2 separate regions of the Homo sapiens genome follow, and region 1 is linked to region 2. Evidence: fine-mapped expression QTL. A gene starts in region 2. The other region holds a variant in brackets. All regions are shown on one strand. Distances are between the middles of the regions.

Region 1 (17,119 bases), 140 kb after region 2:
TGTTCAAGGTGTTTGTTATCACCTTGAATTACTTTGCTAGTAAGCGTTAGAAAATACAAACTGGCTTAAGCACACAAAGGCTCCTTTATCTAAAGAATCTAGAGGAAGGGTTGCAGGCACGGCTTGAACCACAAGCCCAGATGGCATTGCTCAAGATGCAGATTCTCTCTGGCTCTCTACTCTGCCTCTCTGCAAGGTCAGTTTCATCCTCAAGCTCTATTCAGTGAAGTCTCTCACTTCGTTATTGCCACAGTCCTCCATCTCCTGTTCTCACACCACATCATCCAGGAATAGAAAGATACTTTTATTCTGGTAGCTCTTGGGGAAGAGAAAATACCCTTTCTCTGACGCCTCAGAAAGCGAATCCTTCTGCCTTATTGACTCTGATTAGATTCTCTCTTCCCATTCCCAAACCAAAACCAATCACCAGTAATTAAAGCCGGTCAGAGCCCACCCCTGGAGTTAAAATGGGGTTTAAGGTAGGGCCACCCACACCATCTGGCTTGGAATAAAGGGAATATAGATCCTCACAGTAAATATGGATAGTGTCATCAGAAGGAGGAGGAATGGATGTAGAAAGCAAAACAATAAATTCCCACTACAGGCTCCAATCATTGTGAAAATAATTGCCTTAGAATTACTGGCATGTTACCAACCAGCATTTATTGCTTTGTTAAGTAGTTAAGAAAATGAAGGAAGATCTTTAAGTCTTTTTTTAAAACCTAGGTTTTGGTCCCCTGAAATCATTCTTGCCCCTGTCGTTTGCCTCTGATGTAAATTTTTTTCTCCCAAGTACTATAAATAAGTTGTTGATATGGTTTGGCTGTGTCCCCATACAAATCTCATCTTGAATTATAATCCCCATAATCCCCACGTGTTGTGGAAGGAACCCTGTGGGAGGTAATTGAATCACGGGGGTGGTTCCCCTGCATGCTGTTCTCGTGATAATGAATGAGTTCTCACGAGACCTGATGGTTTTATAAGTGCCTGACACATTTCCCCTGCTAGCGCTCATTCTCTCTCCTGCCACCCTCTGAGGAGGTGCCTTCGCCATGATTGTAAGTTTCTTGAGACCTTTCCAGCCATGTGGAACTGTGAGTCAATCAAACCTCTTTTCCTTATCAATTACCCAGTCTTGGGTATTTCTTCACAGCCGTGTAAGAACCAGACTAATACAGGTGTTATCCATAAATCTAAGGACCTGACCTTTCCATGATGTTAAACAACATCTTTTATATATTCCTGAAGTCAGCTGATGCTTGTCTGGGATAAGAAGGGTATCTAGAAGGAGGCTGACAGCCTGTTGGCATCCCCTATTCACTCACCCTTGGGGACAGAAGGGGAGCAACAGAGGGAGTGCTTCCTGGGAGTTACTGTGAGTGCCCTTCTCTTCCCACTGGAGTGCCACCCTCTGGCTGTTCTGTTGTCCTCCAGTGCTCAGAGAGTCTCCATGGAAGGCTTGAGCCTTGGTACTTTGCATCAGCCAGGTGGGAAGATAGTGCTGAGGTTAAATAGAACAATGAGGTTATTACTGAGGAAGCAAAATGGAAGTGCAGTTTTGAAAGAGTCTTCAATGCTGTGCTTAGTGTTCATGTCTGTGGGTGGATTTTTTTCTGTTAGAAGGAGAGCCCTTCCAGGCCAGGTAATGAGATTCGTCCACCTGTGTTTGGCATGGGGTAGTGCCTGAAAGATCTAGCTTAACATTAAATTCTTGGAATGTGTTCACTAGATTTGCAGCTCATTTCGACAGATTAGGAGTGGCATTTAAGTCGCAGCTGTATGACAGAGGGTGGTCAGGAGGTGGAATTATCTGAGAGAAGAGGTGCCGACCAGGGCAAGCATTGCTGCTATTGTGCATTCACTGGGTTCTGGTACCAGCTCCATCATGCTCTGGCCATGTGATCTGTGATGAATCTCATAAGCTCCTCTGCCCGTGTTACACTACTGCTTTGAGGATCATAGGAGACAGCCCCCATGTGGTAAATATTAGGTGATAATGAGGATGATTTCCATAATTGGGGTAGGAAGGCCCCTCAGAGATGATCTAGTCTGGAATTGTTCAGACTATGAGTTACAAACTATGAGACATGAAATTAGCTTAGTGGATCTACCAGCAATTTTTTTAAAGAAATGTATTAGAATGAAATAGAAAAATAGCAAATGCATTGAAGTTAATAAAGATGGATATTTTATCAGGTCAGCATGTAAAATGACTATTTTTACTGTGGATTGTAGTAACAAAAAGTTTTTGAAAATAATTGTTCTCATCCAACATTTTCATTTTCCAAAGAAAAGAGAAGCCAAGGAAGAAGCCAAGCAACTCCACAGAGATTATCATTGGTCATAGAAGTGGACAGAGGCAGCCTGCCTGCTGTATTTGAGTCTACTGAATAATGATGGCAATTCACAACTGCATAGACTGATTTAGGCATATTCCTGATGGTGACAGAATTGATACTAGATGATTCCAAGCTCCCTCCAGGAGTCTAGATTTTCTAAATGATGCAAATTAACTACGCATGAGCTTCTATTTTTCTTTTTAAAACTAATATTCTGCTTTTCTTCTAAAATTTATGTAATGACCTCTTCTATTGTCCATACGGATTTGGCAACAGAGTAAATCTTTGGTTATATGACCCCTCTTTTACTCACATTAAATAGGCAACTATCAGCCCCACTTCACAGGGTTACCTTCATAGGAAGATGCCATCCCCATTCTATAACTGTAGCAACATGTTGATGGGCCATCAACATATTTCTGACCTCCATTTACCTATAGTGTCTTTTAGGAAGAGCCGTCCTATTCCCCACTTGCCAAACTAGATCTGAGTCCCCTCCTATTTGTCTTATCACACTGTTGCCTTCTGGCACTGAGCACACTATTACAATGGCTGGTTGGTTTGCCTTCCACACTAGACCATGGGGACAGACACTCTGTCTTGTCACATGGCATTAGCTCTGTCTGACTTGAAATGCTCAATAAATATTTGTTCTTTAAATGATTTCAATCATGTCATGGCCCCTTTCCTCTCAACTTCATTAATCTGAATGTCACTACTTCACAGCCCAATGCTCTTGCTGCCTAAATAAATGCCTACATATGGCCCATTTGAAGGAAATGCACCTGCTTGACTCTCATCTTCCCAGACTTCAGGGCATTTAACTGAAGGAGTGCATTATTTCCCAGAACACACCAATCTTCCCCCTTTGATCCGTGTGTGCCAGCAGTGATTTTTTTTGCCACGAAATTCCACTGATCCTTCACCTGCTTCTCTGTAGTTTTTTCATCTCTTGAGCTTGATAGTCAGGGAAAGAATGAATGGAAAGTGTGCTTAGTCAAGTCACTGTGATTATGGACCAGGACATTTCACGTAGTGGGGCCTCAGAGACTGCAAGGCACCACGGGTGATGGCCTTCCCAGGTGGACTTGATACATTTAGAGCAGTAAACCTGCAAAGGCTTGAAGGACAGTGCTGCAGTGTTGGCTGTACATCTGAGACTGCACAGATTTCAGCTGAATCCCTTCTGTATTCAATGATGATTTATTAGACTTCCACACAGCTAGGATTTGCCTTTGAATAAAGTATATGATTTTGTTCTCTGCTAGCTTAGAACTTGATCTTGTCTTCTTTGGATGAGGGGAGGTTGTTACTATGGATTTGGCTCATCAATCAGGAGATGTTAAGTGTGTTGTATGGATAATTAGAAGTTTATTGGTGATGCTGGAAGGCAGATTACATAATATATCTTCTCGAGATCTCTGCTTCAGGTATGATGTAAAATTGTGCCTCCTAGTTGAGAGAAACAGTGGATTATTGTGTAAATATTAGCTCCATAAGTGGCAATTTACTCTAGATTTGAGCTTGTACAAAGACTCAGTTGCATTGAAGCTCAAATACTGTTCAGATATGTTGGAACAAACTAGCAGAGGCAGGTTGAAATCAAACTTTTCTCTGTTGAATACTGTCCTAGCTTCACAGGATTACTAAGTATTGGTATTGGGGCTTTGTTTTTAGAACAGCTCAGAGAATGTTTATTAGTTGCTACAGGTTAGGCAATGACAACAATGTGAACCCCAGATACAGAGGCTTAAATAAGATAGAAGTATATTTCTCTGTTAGGAACAAGTCTGGGCAAGCAATCATGAGTTGATGTGTGGTTTGACTTTGTTTCTCTGCCATCCAGTATGCATTTTACATTTCAAAGTCCAGGATGACAGGTCTTACCTCTGCTGTGAATTCCACGCAGAAGCCAATTGGGAAGGGGAAATCCCTTTTAAGGGCACAACTTGGAAGTTATAAATATCACTTCTACTTACATTCAGTTGGCCAGAAGTTGGTCATATGCTACATTTAGCTGCAAGAGAACATGGAAAATGTAATCTTTGGCTGGGCACCCATGTATTCAGCTAAAAATTCTACATTATTAAATAAAGGGAAATTGGAAAATGAAGATACTACCACAAAATGTTGATATGAAGCTTTCATTGTTTCACTCTGTCAATTTTACCCCAGCCTTTAAAAATTTATCTGTTTCTCTATATCCCCACTACCATCAGCCTTTTTCACTCCTTTGCCATCTCATATCTAGATTATGCAAGAACCTCTGAATTAATCTCCCAATTTCCAGTCCTCTTCAGTCTTCAGTCTTCTCCTCTAGATGCTTAGATCTTGGTCCTATCCTTGACCACTCTCTTTCTTTCAGACCCCTTATGGAATCCACCAGAAAATCCTGTTACCCTGTCTTCAGACTAAATCTGGAATCCAGCCCCTGTTCACCATGGGTCACCACTGATTGAAGCCTCCAGCATCTCTCTGCTTAATGCCTGCAGCAGCCTCCTGGCTGGTCTCCTCTTTCCCTTTAGCGCCTCTCATTTATTCTCAACACAATGGCCAGGGTGATTTTTTTTTAAAACTAAGTTTCAACATGTCACTCTTTGCTTAAAACCTGGCCACATCCAAGTCTTCATGATGCCTTTCATATTGATGCTCTCTAACTTCATCTCTTGCTACTCTTCTCTGCCTCACTCACTGCCCCAACCCCATTGGCCTCCTCAGTCAGTTGTGCTCCTACCCAGACTTTGCACTGACTGATCCTCCTTCCTAGAGCACACCAC[C/T]CCTCCATAGCCACATAGTTAACTCCCTCCCTTTTTCAAAGTTTCTCACTTTCTCAATGATAGCTGCTTTGACCGACACATGTGAATTCATGAACAGTCCTTTCAACCTTCTTGCTCCCCCTACACATCCTGCTTTCCCCCATAGTATTTGACACTTCCTCATATGCTATCTAACTGCTTACTTAGTATGTCTATTGCTTATTGTCTGTTCACTTAAGATCCACTTAGGCAGGGACTTTGTCTGTTTGTTCATTGATGTATCACAGGTACTTAGTTGGTGCTCGTAAGCAGTTAGTGAATGAGCGAGTCATTCAAAGAGACATCTGCTAAGGCTCCCTCCTCTCATCTCTTCCCTTCACCCTGCCTTTTGCCAAGGCCCCTTCTTTCACCCTGGTGACTCTCATCGCCCAGTGTCCTCATCTGTGGTGTTGACATGCCCATCTGGAGTGTGTATACATCTTACATCAGCCCTTTGGGTGCCCAGAGGCCCACTACAGAATGAAGTGCTGGAGGAGCACAGCACAGAGATATTAACTGTTTATCTCCAGCTTTAAGCAGAGCCCAGGGAAGAAGGAGGTCCTATTCAGAAGACACAGGTGGTGCCTTGGAACCAGAGGTGGACAAGGACAATTCTTGAGCCCACGGAAAACACAAAAGGAGATGTTTAGGGAATAGACCAGAGTTAGGAGACCCCAGCATCTGTCAGCATCTCCACTGGAACTCCCACCCTCCACTCTGAGTCCTTGGAGACTTCATCCCTGCTCGGAATTTCTGTATTTCCACTGTTCTGTAGGACCCCTATAAAAGTCAAAGGAAACCACTCAGAGCCTCTGCTCCCAAGGGTCTGAAAATCAAGGAAATATGGAATGGGGTGCCCGGAACACAAGAGGGAGATTTGCTGTTCCTGGAACCTGAAGATGATACTCAGAAAGTGTTTTCTCATAGGCATGTTGTAAATAATTGAATCATCCTCCAAGGAAAGTATATCGTGTTAAGTAAGCATTTGTGTAATCATTATTAAGACTTTAGAAACATTGGCTTATGTTAATGAATGCTTAATTCAAATTGCAAAATACTAAGTAGACTGTATACTCATGAATGTTATTGTAAAAAGATATAAATATTAAAGGGCTTGGAAGTAAATGTGTGAATATGATTGTGTTATGTCAGTGAGATTATGGGAGATTTATTTCCTCTTTATGTACTTTTCCTTTAATGTTCCATTTTCTTTTCAATTTTAGGTTACAGTTTCTGTTGGGAATTGTTTCTAGAGCCAAGTAAATAATACTCAGACCAACTTTGGGAAGCTGGCCCATCTGTAACATATAGGTGGAGATCCCTCTGAAGTCGTCTCCTTTCAAGCTTTTATTATTAGTTATCTTCTAGAGGCAATAAAGTAATAACAAAATGTTAACAGAGGAGCCTGCTGCCTGTTCTAAAAGCAGTTGTAAACAGCAATATCTAGATTACGTCAGCAGCAACGCTGAAGGGTAAATCCCATACAGAAATATGTGTTTTGCCCAGACCTGGGCCAACTGACATCTTAAGTCAGTCTAAGTCTGGGCTCCATATATGGCGTTTTTTTGGACACTTTTTCAGGCTCATCTCTAGTCTCCCTGTTTCCAATTTATGTTGGCCTTTGTGGACCCTGAGGTTTATGGCCTTATTTTACTTCACATTTTTGTCATTTCTACCAAAGGTTTCTTTTTATCATCTACTCTTTTCTTTCCAAATGTCAGTATTATAGTGAGAGGGGGGAAAAAAGGCCTTTTGATTTCTATGGCCATTGCAAAAGGATCACTAATGTGCAGCACTTTTGTTTGCAAAGACATGGATTACAGTCAGTTTCAAAAACCTTCACTTTGATGTGTAGAAAGTATATCGGGAAATCCTTTGGGGGTGGTATCCGACTGCCTCTCTGATGCAGAGCACAAAAGATGCTCTATGATTGTGAGGAAAATGTGATGGATATCCTACAGTTGGGTGTGCCGAGGTCAGTGGTTAAAAGCATGCATTCATTTTGTATCTGAAAGGTTGCCATGCAGCCCAGTTGAAACACAATTCCTACCAAAAGGACACAGTAAAGAGTAAAATGCACCTGTCATTTGAGGAGAGGGATTTTTGATAGAAAGATCCACAGCTTTTGAGAAACTTGAATGAGAGAAAGCCAAAGCTGCATTGGCTTTCTAAAAGTGATTCTTGAAAACTAGAGGTATTTTAGAAGATACAGTTGAATGATCAGCAACTTGAGATTATTATATTTTAAAAGCATTTTGTCTTGATTCTGTGTCATCTTTTGGTAGTGAGCTACATGAAGCCCATTACTTAATTGGTCATGAAACATCTTCCTCTGTAGTGTGGAATTCTGGAGAAGGCAGTCTCTGTTGATCACTTTGTTTTGTTCTATTTTGCTTTGCTCTTTCAGAAAACTGAAGGAGGGAGTCTACATCTCTATAAATTGGCATAGCTTCTGAGTTATGAGGCTGCCCAGGGACTTCCCAACAGGAGAGGGATTGCCAAGTGTACAGTGGAGCTAGGGTTCCAGTCAAAATAGACATTCTGCATTCTTCTTTCTCTGGTTTTGAAAGAGGTGTTGAAGATTCCAATGCAGATTCCTATTATACTGAGTTTTCTTTGGTAACGTTATGGAGGGAAGTCAAGTAATAACAGCTAATGTTTTTAGGACATGCAGTGTGCTAGGAATTGTTCTAAGTAGTTTATATATGTTAACCCATTTAATACAATACCACAACATTTTGAGGTAGACACTGTTATTATATTATTCCTGTTTTAAATTTTATTTTCATTTTTATTTTTTTACAGACAGGGTCTTACTCTGTCACCCAGGCTGGAGTACAGTGGCACAATCATAGTTCACTGCAGCCTTGAACTCTTGGGCTCAAGTGATCCTCCCACCTCAGCCACCCAAGTAGCTGGGACTACAGGGGCAAGCTACCTTGCACAGCTAAATAAAAAAAAAATTAATTTTCTGTAGAGACAAGGTCTTGTTATGTTGGCCAGGCTGGTCTTGAACTCCTGGCCTCAAGTGATCCTCCCACCTCAGCCTCTCAGACACTGTTATTGTTCTTATATGACAGATGAGAAAACCGAGGCATAAGGTTAGCTAACTTGCCCTAGGTCATACAACTCATAGTGGCAGAACTGAGTCTTGAACTCAGGCCACCTGATTTTAGGGCTTATCCCCTACGCTGTACTAACACTTCTAGTGTGCAGGTTCCCTCTTATCTGGGACTAGTGCATGAAGTCTGATGTGCTGTGGCCTTTCCAGAGAAATAACTAGTGTATTCCCTGTTCCCTGCTGTGGACTTCTGATTAGCTTTTTTCACTTCCACTGGCTCTGTTAGAATTGTAGATTCTTAGAGCTGGAGAGAACTTTAAAGATCACTGGATGCCTTTTTCTCTCCCTTTAACTTTGTGTAATTCTCCCAAGACTCATTTGTTTGTTTAATTTATTCAATAGTCATTTTCTGAGTTCCTGTTTAGTTTTAGGCAGTGGAGACACCGTGGTCAATACAATACAATACAATACAATACAATACAATACAATACAATACAATACAATACTCTGCCTTGAAGGAGCTTATAGCGTAAGAGGGGTGCAAGTGAGGACCAGTTAGTAAGGGGCAATTCTAATTCAGTGGTTAGATGTAACGAGAGGTGCATTCATACAAGTGCTATGGAAGCACAGAAGAGAGGTGCAGAAACACTTCCAATGGCAGTGTTGGCAAGGCTGACACCTGTGGAAGTGTCAGAGGTGGTAGATGAAGATGGTGGAGGAGAAGCTATTTAGGTCAGATAATGAGACAGAATGGCATTGTCTCTGAGTATAGTCATCCATTGCTTTTGTAGCTCTATGTGCAGAAATTGAGCAATAGACATGTACCCTGTAAGAGACCTCATCTTCAGAAAGCTAAATAATATCATGACATTTCTAATTCTACAAATAGAATTAAAGACATCTCTCCAGTACTTTGACATGCTCTTTGGTTTTGTTCTTTCCCTCACTTTTGTGTTGCACAATGCCTGGGTGCCCCATCCATACCGGATCCACTTAAAAACTTTGGCATGCTTCAGGGTTCAGCATCTCCAGGGTCACCTCTGCTATGATGCCCTCCTCGATAACGCCACATGGCAGTAATTCATTCATCCTCTACATTTCTTTGGCATGTAGCATTTGTAGTAGTCATGGCTCTTTCCACATTTGGCCTTAGTGTACATTTATTAGCACATGTATCGCCATCATGTGCATGTGTTTTCTTCAGATCCAGGAGACTGTCGTGGGCATCTCATAGCCAGCATGCAATGCCTTCCTGATAGTGTAACCTCAGTAAAAATTAGTTACATGAATTGCCTCTACATTCCCTTCTCCTTGATGTATCAGAAACTATATGGTGAAGACTGATGATACATCAGCCCCATCTGTCAGCTCTTTTGAAAAGATGGTGAAAATCTTGACCTGACCCTCTTTTAGATCACTCCATGGGGACTGGAGAATTTTGAAAGCCACAAAAAATCTTTTATTTCATCATACAAATTTTGGAAATACATTTCTTTAAGAGAGTTTTCTGCTCTGATGTTGTGCCAGGTGCACTTCCTCTAAAGAATAGCATCTTTTGTGATGAGATTATCAATTCTCATCCGTGGGCTGCTTTAAAGACATTAAATTTAGACCTGTTCTAACTTGGAACAGGTTAGAGGATTTGGGGAGTAAAGGAAAGTAGTCAGCTAGAATCAATTTTGTGTGACACCCTCAAGGGGCATAGCCTGTGACCAGGTATTAGGCAGCAGAGCTCAAAGGCTAAAAATCGAGGGAATTACACTCAGAACAATCTAAGATTCCAATCCCATCTCTGCCATTCTCTAGATATGGGATATTTCTCTGAACCTCCATTTCCTTGTCTGTGAAAGGGATGACAATAAAACATATCTACTTGACAAGTTGCTATAATGATTAAGTGAAGTAATGTATGTAAAGCAGATGGTAAGTGTCCAATTAGTTCTTGATTAATGCACATCCTAAAGCTTCTGTTGCATTCCTAACACATTGTGAAGCCCTGTGTGGGCTGCAGAAGTCACAGATGTGATAGAGTTTACATCTGGTACATGCCCCCTGAAAGCATCCAGTCCGGAAGGAGAGGGGAAGACTGAAGGATCAAACTCACTTTCGATGGCCATGGGCTACATCTAATTTTGGCAGACTTGACAGGAGAAGAGTGAGTCAGAGAACAGGCAGACTGGGTGGAGACTTTAGTGATGATTTCCCAGTACTGGATAGAGCTTAAGCCTGGATAATCTAGACATTTGCCTGAGAGAAGCTTAAATTAAAATGTCACTAGCAGCAGAAATTCAAGTGTCATTTAAAGAGCTAGTAGTTCTGGAAGTTGAAGCTGGTGTTGAAGATAGTGGATATCATCAGTAGTCTCAGGATTTTGTCCCAACATTTTGGTATATTCTAACCAAGGTTTAAAAACTAACTTAAAAAAAAAATAGATCCAGCCAAATTTGGATCTATCTATCGATTGATTGGTCCATCCATCCATTCAGCTATCATCTATGTCTCTATCTACCTTCCTGCCTGTCACCATTATAACGCTCCCAGTCTCATGAGATTCTGATAGTGAGACAGGAAGTTAAGAGAATGTCTACCATGGGAATTTAGGATAAAAGTTAAAATGTTGTTTCATAGCCAGCTAAATAGGGTATGGCTGGGCCAACTTCACCCAGCTAGCAGTTAGACGGGGCAGGAAGTTTTAAGATAGTCTCCATCCACACTGCCACGGGTAGTTAATAAATACTTGCATACACAATGTGAACCAAACTTTTCTCCTCTGTTGGAACACAAGATGATCATCCCCCCAGAAGACAAAGAGGTCATCTTGACTAGCATTTAGGCTTTGGGCAGATAATATCCTAGCATTTTATCACTAGTCTACATAAGTTTTCAGAGGCCCTGAGGGGTTGATGTCCTGTCCAGGAAGTAAGTGGTGAAGGGGAACTCCCTCCTTGAGTGATGTCTGTCTCTTCTACCTACCATCTTTGAAAGGTAGCTCTTTGCCTGCCATCTTGAAATAGGGTCTTGAATCAGCCTCAGTCAACTTAGGCAGAGGGCTTTTGAGTCTCTCCATAAAAAAACTTGAATATTAAAACAATGCAGATGAAGTGCTTTAATATTAAACAACGTATGTTGCAAACCTAAGCATCTGTTGAGGTAGCTCCTGCTGTCGCTCCTGTGTGTCCGTTTCTGATGACTGTGTGAGTTCCCAGTTGCCACCCTCCTTTTGAATTTTATGTATTTCTTTGCAGTAACATGATCTTGAAAACATTACACAAACTGACAGAAAGCTTAGCCTTCATGTCATACTCTCCTTTCTTATCTCTTTTATTTTTGGTCTATTCTAGGCAGTAGATTTTTTTTGACTGGTAAAATCACTTGAGGTCACAAGGACAGTGAATAGCAATGCAGTTGCTGTTGATGAAACAGGAGTAGAGATGGTTGGTGTAGAGAAAAACCTATTAATAGCCATTTTTAGAAACAGACTTTTAAATCCACCCATCAGAGCTGAAACATTTCCCCTGTTCTCACACTCCCAGAGCTGGCAGCAGCTTCTCCTCATGTCTGAGGAGCCTAGCCATGCTTGTGGGAGATGATGGCATGGGTGCCAGTGGGGCAGCTGGCCAGGTGGTGCCAGGAGCGAGGGCCTGCCAAGCAGAGGGGCAGTCCTGCCTCTGGTAACTGGCTTTGACTGCAGGACTGGAGGGTCCAAGCATCCTTAGCCACTCTCTTGTTAACTGAGCTATTCAATGTTCTGTGATCTACTACTGTCAACTGGACAGAGTCAGCTGCCTCCTCTGGGGCTCAAAATTACTGGCACAATCACATTAAAAATAATAACAATCACATATAATGCCTACTGTGCCAGTTACTCTTACAGGTGTGTTACATATATTATTTGCAAGCAGAGGAAAAATTGCAGGCTGAGTGCAGTGGCTCACACCTATAATCCCAGCATTTTGAGAGGCTGAGGCAGGTGGATCACTTGACCTCAGGAGTTCGAGACCAGGCTGGACAACATGATGAAACCCCATCTCTACTAAAAATACAAAAATTAGCTGGGCTGGTGACGCATGCCTGTAATCCTATCTACTCGGGTGGCTGAGGCAGGACAAATGCTTGAACTCGGGAGGTGGAGGTTGCAGTACGCCAAGATCGCGCCCTGCACTCCAGCCTGGGCGACAGCATGAGATTGTCTCAAAAAAAAAAAATTGTGAAGAAGGTAAACTTTGCCTACATCTCTCCCATCTCCTGTTTTCATGGCCTCTTCTTCCTTAAAGACCGCCTCATATATGAGGCATATCCTGAGGTTCTTCATGGTACCCCTAAGATGCTGAGGGTTGCCAACCTAAGAAGAGCTATTCATCTTACATTATCCTGCTTCCTGTCCTAGAACTCATGTCTTCTTTACTTGCATCCCTGAATCCCTGTCCATCCATCCATCCACCCAATGTTTACTGAGCACCTGCTATCTTCTAGGCACTGTGAGGTATTGAGAATAACATCATAAGCTTGCCAGCTATGATTCTTCTTATTGCTGAGTGTACAATCTAGTGAGAAAGACAGATAATAAATAAGTGAACGAACAACATTATAAAGATGGTTATTATTTTTTTTCTAAAGGAAAATGATACCTCAGGAGTCTTTCTTCTAGTTTGGTCACAAGTTAATACCATAGCAAGCATGTAATTGTGAACTGCAGGGCTGCATTATCTTTTTTTTATTATTATACTGAAGTTCTGGGATACACGTGCAGAATGTGCAGGTTTATTACATAGGTATAAACGTGCCATGGTGGTTTCCTGCACCCATCAACCCATCATTTACATTAGCTATTTCTGGTAATGCTATCCCTCCCCTTGCCCCACACCCCCTCCTACAGGCCCCAATGTATGATGTTCCCCTCCTTGTGTCCATGTGTTCTCATTGTTCAACTCCCACTTATGAATGAGAACATGTGGTGTTTGGTTTGCTGTTCCTGTGTTAGTCTGCTGAGAATGATGGCTTCCAGCTTCATCCATGTCCCTGCAAAGGACACAATCTCATTCTTTTTTATGGCTGCATAGTATTCCATGGTGTATATGTGCCACATTTTCTGTATCCAGCCTATCATTGATGGGCATTTGGGTTGGTTCCAAGTCTTTGCTATTGTGAATAGTGCTGCAATAAACATACATGTGCATGTGTCTTTATAGCAGAATGATTTATAATCCTTTGAGTATATACCCAGTAATGGGATTGCTGGGTCAAACGGTATTTCTAATTCTAGATCCTTGAGGAATCCCCACACTGTCTTCCACAATGGTTAAATTAATTTGCACTCCCACCAACAGTATAAAAGCGTTCCTATTTCTCCACATCCTCTCCAGCATCTGTTGTTTCCTGACTTTCTAATGATTGCCATTCTAACTGGCATGGGATGATACCTCATTGTAGTTTTACTTTGCATTGCTCTAATGACCACTGATCATGAGCTTTTTTTTTTTCATATGTTTATCAGCCGCATTAGTGTCTTCTTTAGAGAAGTGTCTGTTCATATCCTTTACCCACTTTTTGATGGGGTTATTTGCTTTTCTCTTGTAAATTTTTTTTATTATTATACTTTAAGTTTTAGGGTACATGTGCACAACGTGCAGGTTTGTTACATATGTATACATGTGCCATGTTGGTGTGCTGCACCCATTAACTCATCATTTAACATTAGGTATATCTCCTAATGCTATCTCTCCCCCCTCCCCCCACCCCAAAACAGGCCTTGGTGTGTGATGTTCCCCTTCCTGTGTCCATGTGTTCTCATTGTTCAGTTCCCACCTTTGAGTGAGAACATGAAGTGTTTGGTTTTTTGTCCTTGCGATGGTTTGCTGAGAATGATGGTTCCCAGTTTGATCTATGTCCCTATAAAGGACATGAACTCATCATTTTTATGGCTGCATAGCATTCCATGGTGTATATGTGCCACATTTTCTTAATCCAGTCTATCATTGTTGGACATTTGGGTTGGTTCCAAGTCTTTGCTATTGTGAATAGTGCCACAATAAACATATGTGTGCATGTGTCTTTATAGCAGCATGATTTATAATCTTTTGGGTATATATCCAGTAATGGGATGGCTGGGTCAAATGGTATTTCTAGTTCTAGATCCCTGAGGAATCGCCACACTGACTTCCACAATGGTTGAACTAGTTTACAGTCCCACCAACAGTGTAAAAGTGTTCCTATTTCTCCACATCCTCTCCAGCACCTGTTGTTTCCTGACTTTTGAATGATTGCCATTCTAACTGGTGTGAGATGGTATCTCATTGTGGTTTTGATTTGCATTTCTCTGATGGCCAGTGATGGTGAGCATTTTTTCATGTGTCTTTTGGCTGCATAAATGTCTTCTTTTGAGAAGTGTCTGTTCATGTCCTTGGCCCACTTTTTGATGGGGTTGTTTGTTTTTTTCTTGTAAATTTGTTTGAGTTCTTTGTAGATTCCGGATATTAGCCCTTTGTCAGATGAGTAGGTTGCGAAAATTTTCTCCCATTTTGTAGGTTGCCTGTTCACTCTGATGGTAGTTTCTTTTGCTGTGCAGAAGCTCTTTAGTTTAATTAGATTCCATTTGTCAATTTTGTCTTTTGTTGCCACTGCTTTTGGTGTTTTAGACATGAAGTCCTTGCCCATGCCTATGTCCTGAATGGTAATGCCTAGGTTTTCTTCTAGGGTTTTTATGGTTTTAGGTCTAACGTTTAAGTCTTTAATCCATCTTGAATTAATTTTTGTATAAGGTATAAGGAAGCGATCCAGTTTCAGCTTTCTACATATGGCTAGCCAGTTTTCCCAGCACCATTTATTAAATAGGGAATCCTTTCCCCATTGCTTGTTTTTCTCAGGTTTGTCAAAGATCAGATAATTGTAGATACGTGGCGTTATTTCTGAGGGCTCTGTTCTGTTCCATTGATCTATATCTCTCTTTTGGTACCAGTACCATGCTGTTTTGGTTACTGTAGCCTTGTAGTATAGTTTGAAGTCAGGTAGCGTGATGCCTCCAGCTTTGTTCTTTTGGCTTAGGATTGACTTGGCGATGCAGGCTCTTTTTTGGTTCCATATGAACTTTAAAGTAGTTTTTTCCAATTCTGTGAAGAAAGTCATTGGTAGCTTGATGGGGATAGCATTGAATCTATAAATTACCTTGGACAGTGTGGCCATTTTCACGATATTGATTCTTCCTGCCCATGAGCATAGAATCTTCTTCCATTTGTTTGTATCCTCTTTTATTTCATTGAGCAGTGGTTTGTAGTTCTCCTTGAAGAGGTCTTTCACATCCCTTGTAAGTTGGATTCCTAGGTATTTTATTCTCTTTGAAGCAATTGTGAATGGGAGTTCACTCATGATTTGGCTCTCTGTTTGTCTGTTATTTGTGTATAAGACTGCTTGTGATTTTTGCACATTGATTTTGTATCCTGAGACTTTGCTGAAGTTGCTTATCAGCTTAAGGAGATTTTGGGCTGAGACGATGGGGTTTTCTAGATATACAATCATGTCATCTGCAAACAGGGACAATTTGACTTCCTCTTTTCCTAATTGAATGACCTTTATTTCCTTCTCCTGCCTGATTGCCCTGGCCAGAACTTCCAACACTATGTTGAATAGGAGTGGTGAGAGAGGGCATCCCTGTCTTGTGCCAGTTTTCAAAGGGGATGCTTCCAGTTTTTGCCCATTCAGTATGATATTGGCTGTGGGTTTGTCATAGACAGCTCTTATTATTTTGAGATATGTCCCATCAATACCTAATTCATTGAGAGTTTTCAGCATGAAGGGTTGTTGAATTTTGTCAAAGGCCTTTTCTGCATCTATTGAGATAATCATGTGGTTTTTGTCACTGGTTCTGTTTATATGCTGGATTACGTTTATTGATTTGCATATGTTGAACCAGGCTTGCATCCCAGGGGTGAAGCCCACTTGATCATGGTGGATAAGCTTTTTGATGTGCTGCTGGATTCAGTTTGCCAGTATTTTATTGAGGATTTTTGCATCGATGTTCATCAAAGATATTGGTCTAAAATTCTCTTTTTTGGTTGTGTCTCTGCCTGGCTTTGGTATCAGGATGATGCTGGCCTCATAAAATGAGTTAGGGAGGATTCCCTCATTTTCTATTGATTGGAATAGTTTCAGGAGGAATGGTACCAGCCCCTCCTTGTATCTCTAGTAGAATTCGGCTGTGAATCCATCTGGTCCTGGATTTTTTTTGGTTGGTAAGCTATTAATTATTGCCTCAATTTCAGCTCCTGTTATTGGTCTATTCAGAGATTCAAATTCTTCCTGGTTTAGTCTTGGGAGGGTGTATGTGTCGAGGAATTTATCCATTTCTTCTAGATTTTCTAGTTTATTTGTGTAGAGGTGTTTATAGTATTCTCTGATGGCAGTTTGTATTTCTGTGGGATTGGTGGTGATATACCCTTTATCATTTTTTATTGCCTCTACTTGATTCTTCTCTCTTTTCTTCTTTATTAGTCTTGCTAGCAGTCTATCAATTTTGTTGATCTTTTCAAAAAAACAGCTCCTGGATTCATTGATTTTTTGAAGGGATTTTTGTGTCGCTCTCTCCTTCAGTTCAGCTCTGATCTTAGTTATTTCTTGCCTTCTGCTAGCTTTTGAATGTGTTTGCTCTTGCTTCTCTAGTTCTTTTAATTGTGATGTTAGGGTGTCAATTGTAGATCTTTCTTGCTTTCTCTTGTGGGCATTTAGTGCTATAAATTTCCCTCTACGCACTACTTTGAATGTGTCCCAGAGATTCTGGTATGTTGTGTCTTTGTTCTCATTGGTTTCAAAGAACATCTTTATTTCTGCCTTCATTTTGTTATGTACCCAGTAGTCATTCAGGAGCAGGTTGTTCAGTTTCCATGTAGTTGAGCAGTTTTGAGAGAGTTTCTTAATCCTGAGTTCTAGTTTGA
Region 2 (11,064 bases):
TACTGCTGAGGATGTAGATGCCCACCTGCGTCTCTGTGCGGCTGCCATTGGCATAGAGCGTTTCATAAGACAGATATTGCTTGGCCTCTTCGTAAGTGGGCAGTGGAGTTCCCTTATGACACTGGGGTCCACATGAAGAAGATACTTCTAATTTGGCTTCGGCTCCAAAGTCTGGCTTGGCTAAATTGAGGGTAGACTGGGGCAAGACGACAGGGAGGCGGTATGCAGGCCAAGTGGGTTTCCAGGGGGCACTGTAAGGGCTCACTTGCCCAACAGCACAGAGCAGAAAGAAGAGAAGGAAGAGGAGCCCTGGAATCCCTGCCATGCCGAGCACTGTTCTGTAGAAACAAAGACAAGCAGGTCAGGAGGGCAAGGGCTGAACGTTCATTTACTGCAGACAGCAAAGCTCAGCAGCAGGCCTGTCATTGTTTCTGAGTCTTTGAACACTCCTCAGGAATCAGGGTGTGGAGAGGAATCCTTAGATAACGGTCTCACTTTCAACGCAAAGGCTCAACCTTAGGAAAGTTCCTGTGGCTGGGTGCCTGAAGTGAAATTGGGTGTTCCTTCCTTTCTATGTTTAAGATGTCCCTAATGATGGTAGACTGCAGAGTAGCAGGCATAAAGTCATTAGTCCCCTGGCTAACTGACTGACCAGCCCCAATTTCCACGTAATTTTGAGCCCTCTTTGTGCTTGATTCTAAACCTCCTCCTCTTCTACCTTCATGATGTCCCCGCCTTTCCCTCCTCCTTCTCTCATTCTCATTGTAACATGTACTTGGAAAATTTTCAGAGCAACTTGGTCACTCAGAGGGTCAATTTAAATTACATGGCTTACTGAGTGACTGAGACATCAAAGAAGGACAGCTCCACAGTGTCACAATTACCACCACTCCTGTGGTTTTTAAATGATGGTGCACTCGAGAAAGGGTATGAGATTTTTTGTTTTGTTTTGTTTTTTGCTTTGAATTTACAACAACCTTTACTATTATATATATTGAGTTCCAGAGTGGCTAGGCTTCTAATAAAATATTCCTTCTTCCTTTGGATTATGTTGTACACTACCAGGATCTTTGTCAATATCTAAAGCTCTAATATTGCATCAGCTATAACACTATGAACTGTTACCATTGGTTACTTTTTCAGTTGTTTATATCTGTATTACCAACTAAATCTCTTAAATTTGGGCCTGTGCTAGCACTCGACAAAGATTTGTTAAATGGATGCTTGTATTAATGGAAAAGTGAATGAATGTTGCATGCTGACGCTAATGACAATGATGTACATGGATGATGCGGTAGCTCAGAGAAACAGCTTGAGGCCAATTGTGGGAGTAAGAACAAGAGAGGCCTTCTAGGAGAAGTGATGCTTGAGAAATAGTATGCCACAGCCTCGCTCCAACCTCTCAATATAGAGGACCAAATGTATTATTTGGCAAATGCACCCGTTCTTTTCAAATGTACCCACCATTTAGAAGCAATAGGAGTCCTAGTAAAGGTGACACCGTGGAGCTGTCCCTCCTTGATGCTTCGGTCATTCAGTAAGCTATGTAATTTAAATTTACCCTCTAAATGAACAAATTGCCTAGAAATTTTCCAGGCATCACCTGATGTTTCAGATGGGTGCTGAAGTAGAAAAGAAGTCTGATAACATAAGACAGAGAGAAGGGGATACTTAGGGAAGGGAAACAAGAGTCTGTGCAAGGGCACAGCAACATGCAACCATGTGAGTAATTTGGGGAATCACACTTAGCTCAGCAAGGGTGGAGTAGAGGAAGTGGTGGAGGCAGCAGGCAAGAGCTAGATTGTGAAGTGCTATGTGTACTAAACAAAGAAGTTTGGATTTTATACTGCAAGGTATGTTTAAATGCCCAGATCAATCATCCCACAAGAAAAACAACAACGAGGAATACTGAAAGTGCTTTCATAAATGTTTAAGCATCAGTTGGCTCTCAGTGGCTCTGACTCTTCTGGTTCAATAGAAGCTGACTCAGCAGGTAGGGTAACTCATTCACAACCAAGCATCCAAAAACAAGGACCCGGAAGGGGTGGGTCTCAAGAGGCTCTGGGAACACAGCAGAAGTTAGGAAGAAACTGTTTTGTTATTCTCATTCTCTTCCTGTTTGAAAGTACAGATCTACTGGCAACTTTGGGTGCCTTTTGCTCCCTTTTATATAAAAGTAGAAAATCCCAATGATCTGATGTAGTATAGCTGAGCATGCCCATTCTCATTCCCAATATCCACACTGTGTTTCTAACATATGTGTGTGCCCCACCCACCTCTGGGACCTTTTTGCTTGACTTTTTCTCTTGGCTTCCACTTCAGTCAGGGAGAATAGGGATAGGAAAAGAAAGAAATAAGGTCCTGGAAAAGCCAGTTCCTTGGGACTCCCTAATTCCTTGAAATTCTACTTGTCTCCATCTTTCCAAATAGGAAGGGTCCCTGAGCCCTTTTGTAGGAAGGAAATACATTTAATTATTTCTTTAAATCCTTGAAAACATGGGGTGCCCGCATATGTGCACACACGTGTTTGTATGTGCTTGTTGGGAATATTGCCAAGACTAAAGGTTTTAAGTGGACTAGGAAGGGGATGCCAATGCTAGCTGAGTCCTCCTCTCCAATGGAGAACTTGGCAGTGAAATGGGTGTGGTGATGACAACCCTTTAGGAGATCTGTGGGGCATGGTTCTGATTATTCCCACCTACTGGCTAAGGAGTCATCCCTTGGGCTTATCGAGGACTTGAGCAGCCTTTTCTCTATATAAGTTGCTGTCTAGGTGACTAAATGCCCCACTCACACCAGAATCCCTGCCAAATGTGACAGGGACTAGGAGGAGTCATATATCTCCCACATGGCTGTATCTTGGGCTTCAACGCACCATTCTCTCCTCCCTTTGAGTAATGTGGGGAATGTTAATGTGACTTACATTGAGCACATGGTAAGCCAAGTTTTACTTCAGCTTATCTTAAGAAAGAAAACACAGAATGCGGAGGTCCAACCTGCCAAGCGTTCTTGTTTTTAAAATACGATTCTTGGGGGAGAAAGAGTAGGAGATGAGGTAGTATTATAGTATGTATTATCATCAGCTACAGATAATATTTTCAATGTGCATGAAGAACATGGCAGTTACAATATCCTCTTTCATGAGCCACAGCCTTACTCCAACCTCTCAATATAGAGGATCAAATGTATTCTTTGGCAAAATGATGAATGATTATGTCTCAAGAAACTTTGGGATCAGTTATGAATCACAGAATCCTGTTAGAGAATGCTAAAGAGTCTACTGCATGATAGAATATTACTAATTCAGAGTTCTTACAACTTGAATTCTGTTCATTTAGCCAGGAGTGAAGGAGAAGCCAGCCATCTATAAGAAAAAAACAAACTGCTAACCCAACAGGACAGTGTGAAGCTTTAACTTTGAAGAATAAATTTTTCAGAGACTTAATAAGTCCTAATTTCTATTAGTTTGCAACTCTGCTTCCAAGTTCTCCACATTACTAAACCCTATTTACTAACTTGTGTGATAAGACTTTGTTCTGACAGCATTATATATCTTGCTTAAAGCTTCCATGTAACGCTAAAAGTTATAAAATTGCATTTAAAAAAGTTTAATTCAGATTTAGAAATGAATGCAGACTTTTAGAAACTAATGCCCATCAAATTACTTCAAACTGATTAGGCTTAGATATTTTTAAAATATCTAATCAGAAATTAGAAGATACAGCTGTGGGTTCTCAAGCCCTTAAATGGGTTTAAACTGATGTCTGTATTAAAGCTACAAGCTTCTTAAGTTGCTTAGTCCTTTACCAAATGTTTATTTAGGGTGCTTTAGAAATTCTTCTGAATAGCATCCTCAACCAGATGATTGCTTTAGCTGGTCTTTTTAGCTCTGGTCTTTAGGTCCAGGATTCCCTAATATTATAATTTTCCAGAATCACGTAAGTCCAGGTCAGGGACGATGCTGACTATAGTGTCTGTACTATCATTTACTTCTCAGGACCATTGATTCATGGAATTATGGAGGGTGGAGGCAAAGGAGGGGGAAAGGAAAAGGAAAAGGAAAATGAATCATGCTAATTTCTCATCTATCTGGCAGACAAGATTTCCCTGATCAGTCTGCAACAGGACCACTGTTTGAGAGAATGATTTAACTCCTATAGCAAACAAGTGCTGGGAGGGAAAACCTAATCCTTAGGTCATATATTCTCTATTGTACAAATTGTGACTCCAGCAGAAGGCAGCTTTCAAGAACTGAGTGGAGGGATGGCTGTGTGTGTATGCTCTTAAGACAGGCCCCAAAGAAAAGCCTGAGGGGGAAACAACCCTCCTGTCCATTAAGGGTCTTTCCTGAGGCATTCGCAGCCTGCCCTGACTCATCCGCATTAATAAAACAACAAATGATGCAAAACTGTGATGCTTTAAAATTAGGTTGGTGGATTTACATTCATTTCTCAACTCACATGATAATGGAGTAATTCCTTAGAAGACAAATAATTATTGTTACCATCTGTATAAACCCTGGGTAAGCCTGTGCTATACCTGTTTAAGTTTACTTAAACATAAACACTCATCTAAGGTATAAACAGATGTAATGAAAACATTCATAATCCCACACCTGGAAAGGTAACTAATGAGTTACATGATTTTAAATTCTCTCTCACCCTTATAAATGAATCACCTTATCCTTGCAGAGCTGCCTGGAAGACTCACACCTTAAAAATGGAATGAAGATTTTCAAATCTCACCCTTTTACCTAAGTCTGGATGAAGAAAATTTAGGTCTATAACGTTTCATTTCTAGGAATAAACTTTTGCTGAATAAAGATTCCTGGTATACATAAATTATCTTTTAAGGTTTCCAACCAAGTGTTTCCGTGCATCATTTCACCTAACTGGCAGGGAAGAATGGAAAATGAAGGTAAGAAAATATTTTTTCACCATGCTTAGTAATACAGAAACTATTCCTTTTCCAGCTTTGGGTATCTGATTCATAAATAGGTTACACAGTCCACCCTCCATCACTCAATATGAGCCACTGTCTGAAAATATTTATACTTTTTGAGGATGCTGCCACTTCATAGGCCCTTGGTGGTGGGACTTTGCATAATTAACAGATATGCAAACAACAATCTCTTTGGAGACTGGATGCAGTGACTACTGTCTCCTGCACGGCACCTTAGTCTTGAAAACTGCAACAACACAGGTCTCCTCAAGAGGGCCACTGTTTGAGAGAATGATTTAACTCCTATAGCAAACAAGTGCTGGGAGGGAAAACCTAATCCTTAGGTCATGTATTCTCTATTGTACAAATTGTGAATTCCTGCAGCCGCTATAAACAGTAATGACAGAAAGAAACGGCAGGAAAGTTTGCAAAGATACAGGTTTTGGACACCATTTGGAGAGATGACAAAGGGTCTTCCATGGAATCAGTGGTCAGTGATATGGAACGGTGAAATCATGCTAAATCCTAAAGCAAATGCTTAAGAATGAACCAAGCTCTGTGAATACTCTGCAGTCGGGCTTGTTCTCGTTTTCCTGAATCACAGACCCTATTAAGGCAAAACAGACCTAATCACATAATCGTTTAAGAATTACAGTCTTGTACAGGAAACTACAAGGCACTTACAAGTCCAAGCAACCCTAAACACAATCTTGTGGTCAAATGAAGTTTAGCCTCTTCTCTATCGGATTTCAGGTAAACTAAATTGAGCCTGGGACAAACCTGGCAGAACAAGAACAGAGTGCAAAAAAACCTGCTAATATTGAGAACATGAGAAACAAATTCCCTGGAGTCTGTGGGAGTTAGGCATGAATAATGCCTGGTGGATGAAATCCTAAGGGATCTATGAGAAGAGTTACTGGGAGAACCTGAGACTATTAACCATTGCAGACTGGGGACAAAAATGTTCTCAGATGCATTAATGGACACTTATGCTACAACCAGAAAATGCATCCATGTTAACCATCCAGCTGAATAAGTCGTCAGTGTTACAAAAATGAGATCCATATTAGGCACCTTGGAAAAAGGCTTCCTTCCCAGTTCAGGCACAGGAAAGGACAAGTTACCGCTTGACTTTATTTAACTAGGAAAACTGCAAGTGAAACAACCTTTTCGTACGCAGATGGGGTGCAAACACTTTCACAAATAAACATAGTGGCTTCTGGGGGCATTTTCTAAGTTCCTTCTCCCCACTTCACCTCCAATCCACTCCTGACAGACTTCATGGTAGGCACGGTTATAAACCTGTCACAAATACTCGCATGCACAAGTAGGATCTTGAAACAACATGCAATAAATATCCTGATACTACTTTGACATAGGGCTTTTGACCACAGCTGACCTCATCTATAAATTCAATTCTTTCTCACATGACCATGTGATGAGGATTCTGGCACTGGCCTACCTGTTCCTAAGGAGTGCACAGGGAGCCCTCAAATTTAGTTTCAGGAGCTGAGAGAAGCAAGCCCTATTCCAATACCTACACTGAGCTGCTTAATTCTTACTGGTGTCACCCAGTGGGCAGTAAAACAAACAGGATTTTTATCAGCTGCTTTCTCCTGAGGTGCTGGAAAGCAAACCTAATTTGTATTCTGGAGAGGAGTGGTGGTGTTCCTTCATCTGAACAAGTCTTCTCCCGCTCCTTTTAAAACTTTAAAACTTTTATTTAAAAGTTAACTCGTGATGAATGCCTACAGGCAGAAGAACTATTTGCTTACAACAACTGTTGTTAGTTCAGACTGTAGTGTCTAGGGTTAGCACCCCCGGAACGCACACGGACAACCACTCCGGAGAAAAGATTCTATTTCCCAGCCTGTATTTGCTGCACTTTTGCACTTCTCTTGCTTGCTTAGGTGTGTTCACAATCACATGCCCAGGGTTAAAACTTAATATTCAGAACTTGATGGAATCCGGTATATGCAAAACTCAAGGAAAAGAAGTAGTGGTGGTGGTGTGTTGGGGGGGTGCATGGGGGTGTAGCCATCGCCCCCGCCGAAGGACAGCTTGCCGAGAGCCGGCTCTCTCTGCTTCCCAACCAACATCCTGCACCCAAGACAGCAGGATCTTCTTTCCCCATCCGTTTCATGGGTGACACTGCATGAATCCAAATGACCTGCAGCCCCCGCCGTCTCCCCAGAGCTCCTTCAGGCCCCCAGCCCGTGTCCTGGAACCCCGAGGACTGCCCTGGCGAAGTCCTGCGGTGCCTCCGGCAGCCCGCAGTTACCCTACCCCGCGCATACCCGGCCCTTTGTCCCGCTCCTCCCGGCGCCTCGCCTCTCCCGCGCCCGGGCGGATGCCCCAGTCGGTGCCCGCACTCACCCGCGCCGAGCAGCCCGCCCGGGCCGCGGCTCGCTGCGCCGCTCAGACAGGTGTGGGCGCCGGGAGAGAGCGCGCGGCTCCCATGCCTGCCCCGCCGCACAGCCGAGTGCGAGCAAGCTGGCGAGCAGCGCAGGCAGCTGGCGGGTCCGCCCCCCGCGCCACCCGAGGCCCGCCCGCCCCGCCTCCGGCCTCGGGGAAGCCGCGCGGACGCCGCCCGCCCCACTGCACATAAACCGTGCCCCCCTCCCCTCGCCGCTCGCCTGCGGCCGGAGCAGGGTGGAGCAGCCCAGAGGGCCTGAGGCCGAGCGTCCCTGCGCAGGTGGGCCCCGGTGGCGCGGCAGCAGTCGCCAGTCCGGGCCTCTCGGCGCCAGGCAGCACCGGCTCTGGCGGGCTCTCCTGCCCGGGACCCGCGCGCCGTCACCCTTTGAACACCGCGCATCCCCGGGTCTGGCGCGCGGCCTCCTGAGCGAGACTACGGCCTTCGCTGCTGGGAGCACGCTGCCAGCTCGCAAAAAGACCAGGTCCCCTACAAAAGGCGACCCCTCCCCCAACAGCCTAGAACTAGGGACGCGGGCCACACCTGGTGTATGGGGAGCCCTGGGCAAATTTGAAGAATTGGTTCAGAACCTGTGTGCGCCCCACCCCCACGTACACTTTTAGCGCCTTAAGGTGCTGACCGAACTCCTAGTTTCTCCGGTGCCTCCAAAGAACAGAAACCTGTATTCCCATGGCAGGGCCACCAATGCTTTGCATTTCCTTACAGCACTCAGTGCTGTGCGTGGGGCCCAAAGCACCGGGGGTGCTTGGCAGCTTCTGAGCGGCGGTGGCTGGGGAGCCCACTGGCCTCAGTTCTTCATCGGGGCACCAGCTGGTGGAGCCACCTCCTTGTCCAGTGGGCCTACTTCCCTGAATCACTCCAAGCGGTCGTTATCTTGGTGGTGGTGGTTGGGGGCCAGGGTAGGGGGGTGTGCGGGGAGTCCTCTCCTAACCAGGCTGGAGACCTTGCCATTTAAGGTCCTAGTGTTAGAGCCTTCCTATTTAGTATAGATTACTGTGTATTGAGCGTTTTCGGTCAAGAGCTTTACATATAGGCCATTGTGGTGAAGAAGGTGCAGAGATTACACTAATTTTTATAAGGAACAGGAGGTTTGGAGAGGTTTTATGACTTGCCCAAAATCACACAGCTACTGAATGGTAGGACAAGATTTTGCACTGAGCCATGCTTTCTATCAAGCTACTTAGCTTTCCTTTCTCCTATCAAAGTCTACTCTCAGAAAGGGAAGGTCTAAAGTGCTATTTCACACCAAGGTGTTACTGATATGCCTAATACGTTGGTGTTTGCAATTACTTTTACATGAGAAAGCCCTGAACACATTATTGTGTGGTCTTTTCTTTTATTTTATTTTCAAGACAAGTACTCCCTCTGTAGCTCATTCTGGAGTGCAGTAGCAGGATCATAGCTCACTGCAGCGTAGACCTCCTGGGCTCAAGTATCCTCCCTTCTCAGCAAGTATTACACGCGTGAGTCACTGCTCCCGGCCTGGTATTTCTTAAATAGAAAGGAAACTGATATTTTCCACCATTTTAAGGGCAAATTTTTCTTAGCTTAGCTTCAATTGTTTTCTTTTAAAATGTCACATTAATATATAGAGACATAGGCCAGGCTCAGTGGCTCACGCCTGTAATCGTAGCACTTTGGAAGACCAAAGTGGGCAGATTGCTTGAACTTAGGAGTTTGAGACCAGCCTGGGCAACATGGCAAAACCCCATCTCTATAAAAAATACAAAAAACCTAGCCAGTTGTGGTGGCACACGCCTGTGGTCTCAGCTATTTGGGAGGCTGAGGTGGGAGGATGGCTTGAGCCCAGGAGGTGGAGGTTGCAATGAGCTATGATCACCACTGCACTCCAACCTGGGTGACAGACCAAGACCCTGTCTCAAAACACACACAGACACAAAACCAGATATAAACTTATGTTACAGCTTTTGAACAACTCGCAAATAAAACCAAAACAGATTTATAAAAATTTTCTTCCAGAATAATAAAATTGAAATTAGTAACGTTTCCTGGACTACTATCAGCATTGCATGGTACTGACAGCTGAGGCGTCAGTACCTTTGACTTCCCTGTGGCTCTGCCACTCTCATGATGTGTGAGGTGCCCAATGCAGACTCAATTCTCTCACCTCTTTCCTTCGTTCCATCTACCATATCTCCTTTGCCCACACCATATGTCATTGCAATGGGTTTCTCTTGACTCTAATACATTATTTAGGTATTTGTGCTGTTTCTCTCTTATTAGCATAGCAAGTGAAGTGGTAACTCTTGCTGCCAAAGACTAGTACACACAGGTGCTGCAATCAAGAGGCAGTACTTGGCATGAGATGGTCATCCCAATGATCCAGAATGTGTTTATCTTTTATTATAAAAATTTTAAAGATTAAATTGAGGATCTCTAAGTGTCTGTAGCTCCCAATTGAAGAAACACCATTAAAAGGTAAGTATCTTAATAGAGGAACTGGAGGTGCAGCTGGAAGGAAGGGAAGAAGGGAGAGATTTATCAACCATGCTCAAGTTGTATTAGAGTCACTTCAATCCAACAAATATATATTGAGCACATATTACATGGAAAACATTGCGCTAGGCACAAAATTAAAGAGATGCATATAGGAGGACCATACAGCAACATAATTAAGAGTGGCCTGTGGCATCTGACTATGGGGTACCAATCCAAGGTCTGACGCTTACTAGTTGTGTGGCTTTTCACTTAACTTTTCTGTACCTCAGTTTCCTCCTCTGTAAAACCAGGACTTTCTCATAGAGTTCTTTTAAGAATTGAATGAATATACATAGTGTGCTTAGGAGAGTTTCTTACATGGAACAAGCCCTTAATAAATATTAGGTATTGTTATATTTATCACACTTGGCTCTGCTTCGGAGTGTAGTCCTCCAGTACCACCTCAGTCAGCTTTGACATTCATTGCTCATTTTTTTCCTAGTAGTTGCAATGTTTCAAGTTAGAGTCATGGAGAACAAGATGATTATTCCCATCACTCAGAGAGAAAAACTGAGGCACAGAAGGGCCCAAGAGCACAACAGTCCTTCATCTGGTCTCAGGGACTACCGCCCACTATCCAAAGAGCTAATAGGAAGGACTCTTTAACTACAGATGTCCCACGGGGGCTCAGGGTTTGAACATGCACCACAAGCTTTTGTTGTTCCTCAGAGCTACCAAGAGTAAAATGAGAGGCTACTTCCTGGCTGTTAGGTTGTCATCACGATTGCCATAAGGACGATGATAGAACTGTATTTTGACCTCTGAGACAAATGACCAATGTAAACAGCAGATGTCTTCATGCTAAGATTAGAGGTTTGCTTTTCTTTTTGTACTCGTCCCATTTCCCTCCCCAGTGGGGAGGGGGTCGGGGGAACCAAAACCGAAATCCTCACTGCTTCTTAAGAACTCAGTTCAACTCTATAATTGTAATTCCCGAATACTTTTTATATGCGTAGCAATGGAGTTGTTCAAAATGCATTCAGGGCAAAGCCCACACATTTTCTGATCATCCACTCTGTGTAAGGTTATTTGGGCTGTCAGGGAGAGAAAGCAAATACCCCTCAGCTCGAGGAATGTATGCAATGGACATAAACAAAATCAAATATAGGAGAAAGCAAGATATCAGCTGGATCAGGATACAGACATGAGCTAGAGAACATGGAAGAGGGAATCATTAATTCCCACTCTGG

Evidence for each region. PIP is the estimated chance that this variant, and not a neighbour inherited with it, causes the effect.
Region 1: its variant is the best candidate, but not a certain one, in a credible set for the expression of PRSS23 in whole blood (INTERVAL, PIP 0.62).

Annotation. Positions count from the first base shown.
Region 1 is chr11:86,653,414-86,670,532 of GRCh38, reverse strand. All of the region lies in intron 2 of ME3 (malic enzyme 3), which reads left to right. Among named protein-coding and RNA genes, the nearest start is that of ME3, 11 kb to the left of the region's middle. The variant C/T (reference allele first, on the strand shown) is at 5,117.
Region 2 is chr11:86,796,905-86,807,968 of GRCh38, reverse strand. PRSS23 (serine protease 23) reads right to left here and starts at 7,427. Exons shown (of 2, transcript NM_007173.6): 1 at 7,318-7,427; 2 at 1-338. The coding sequence starts at 325.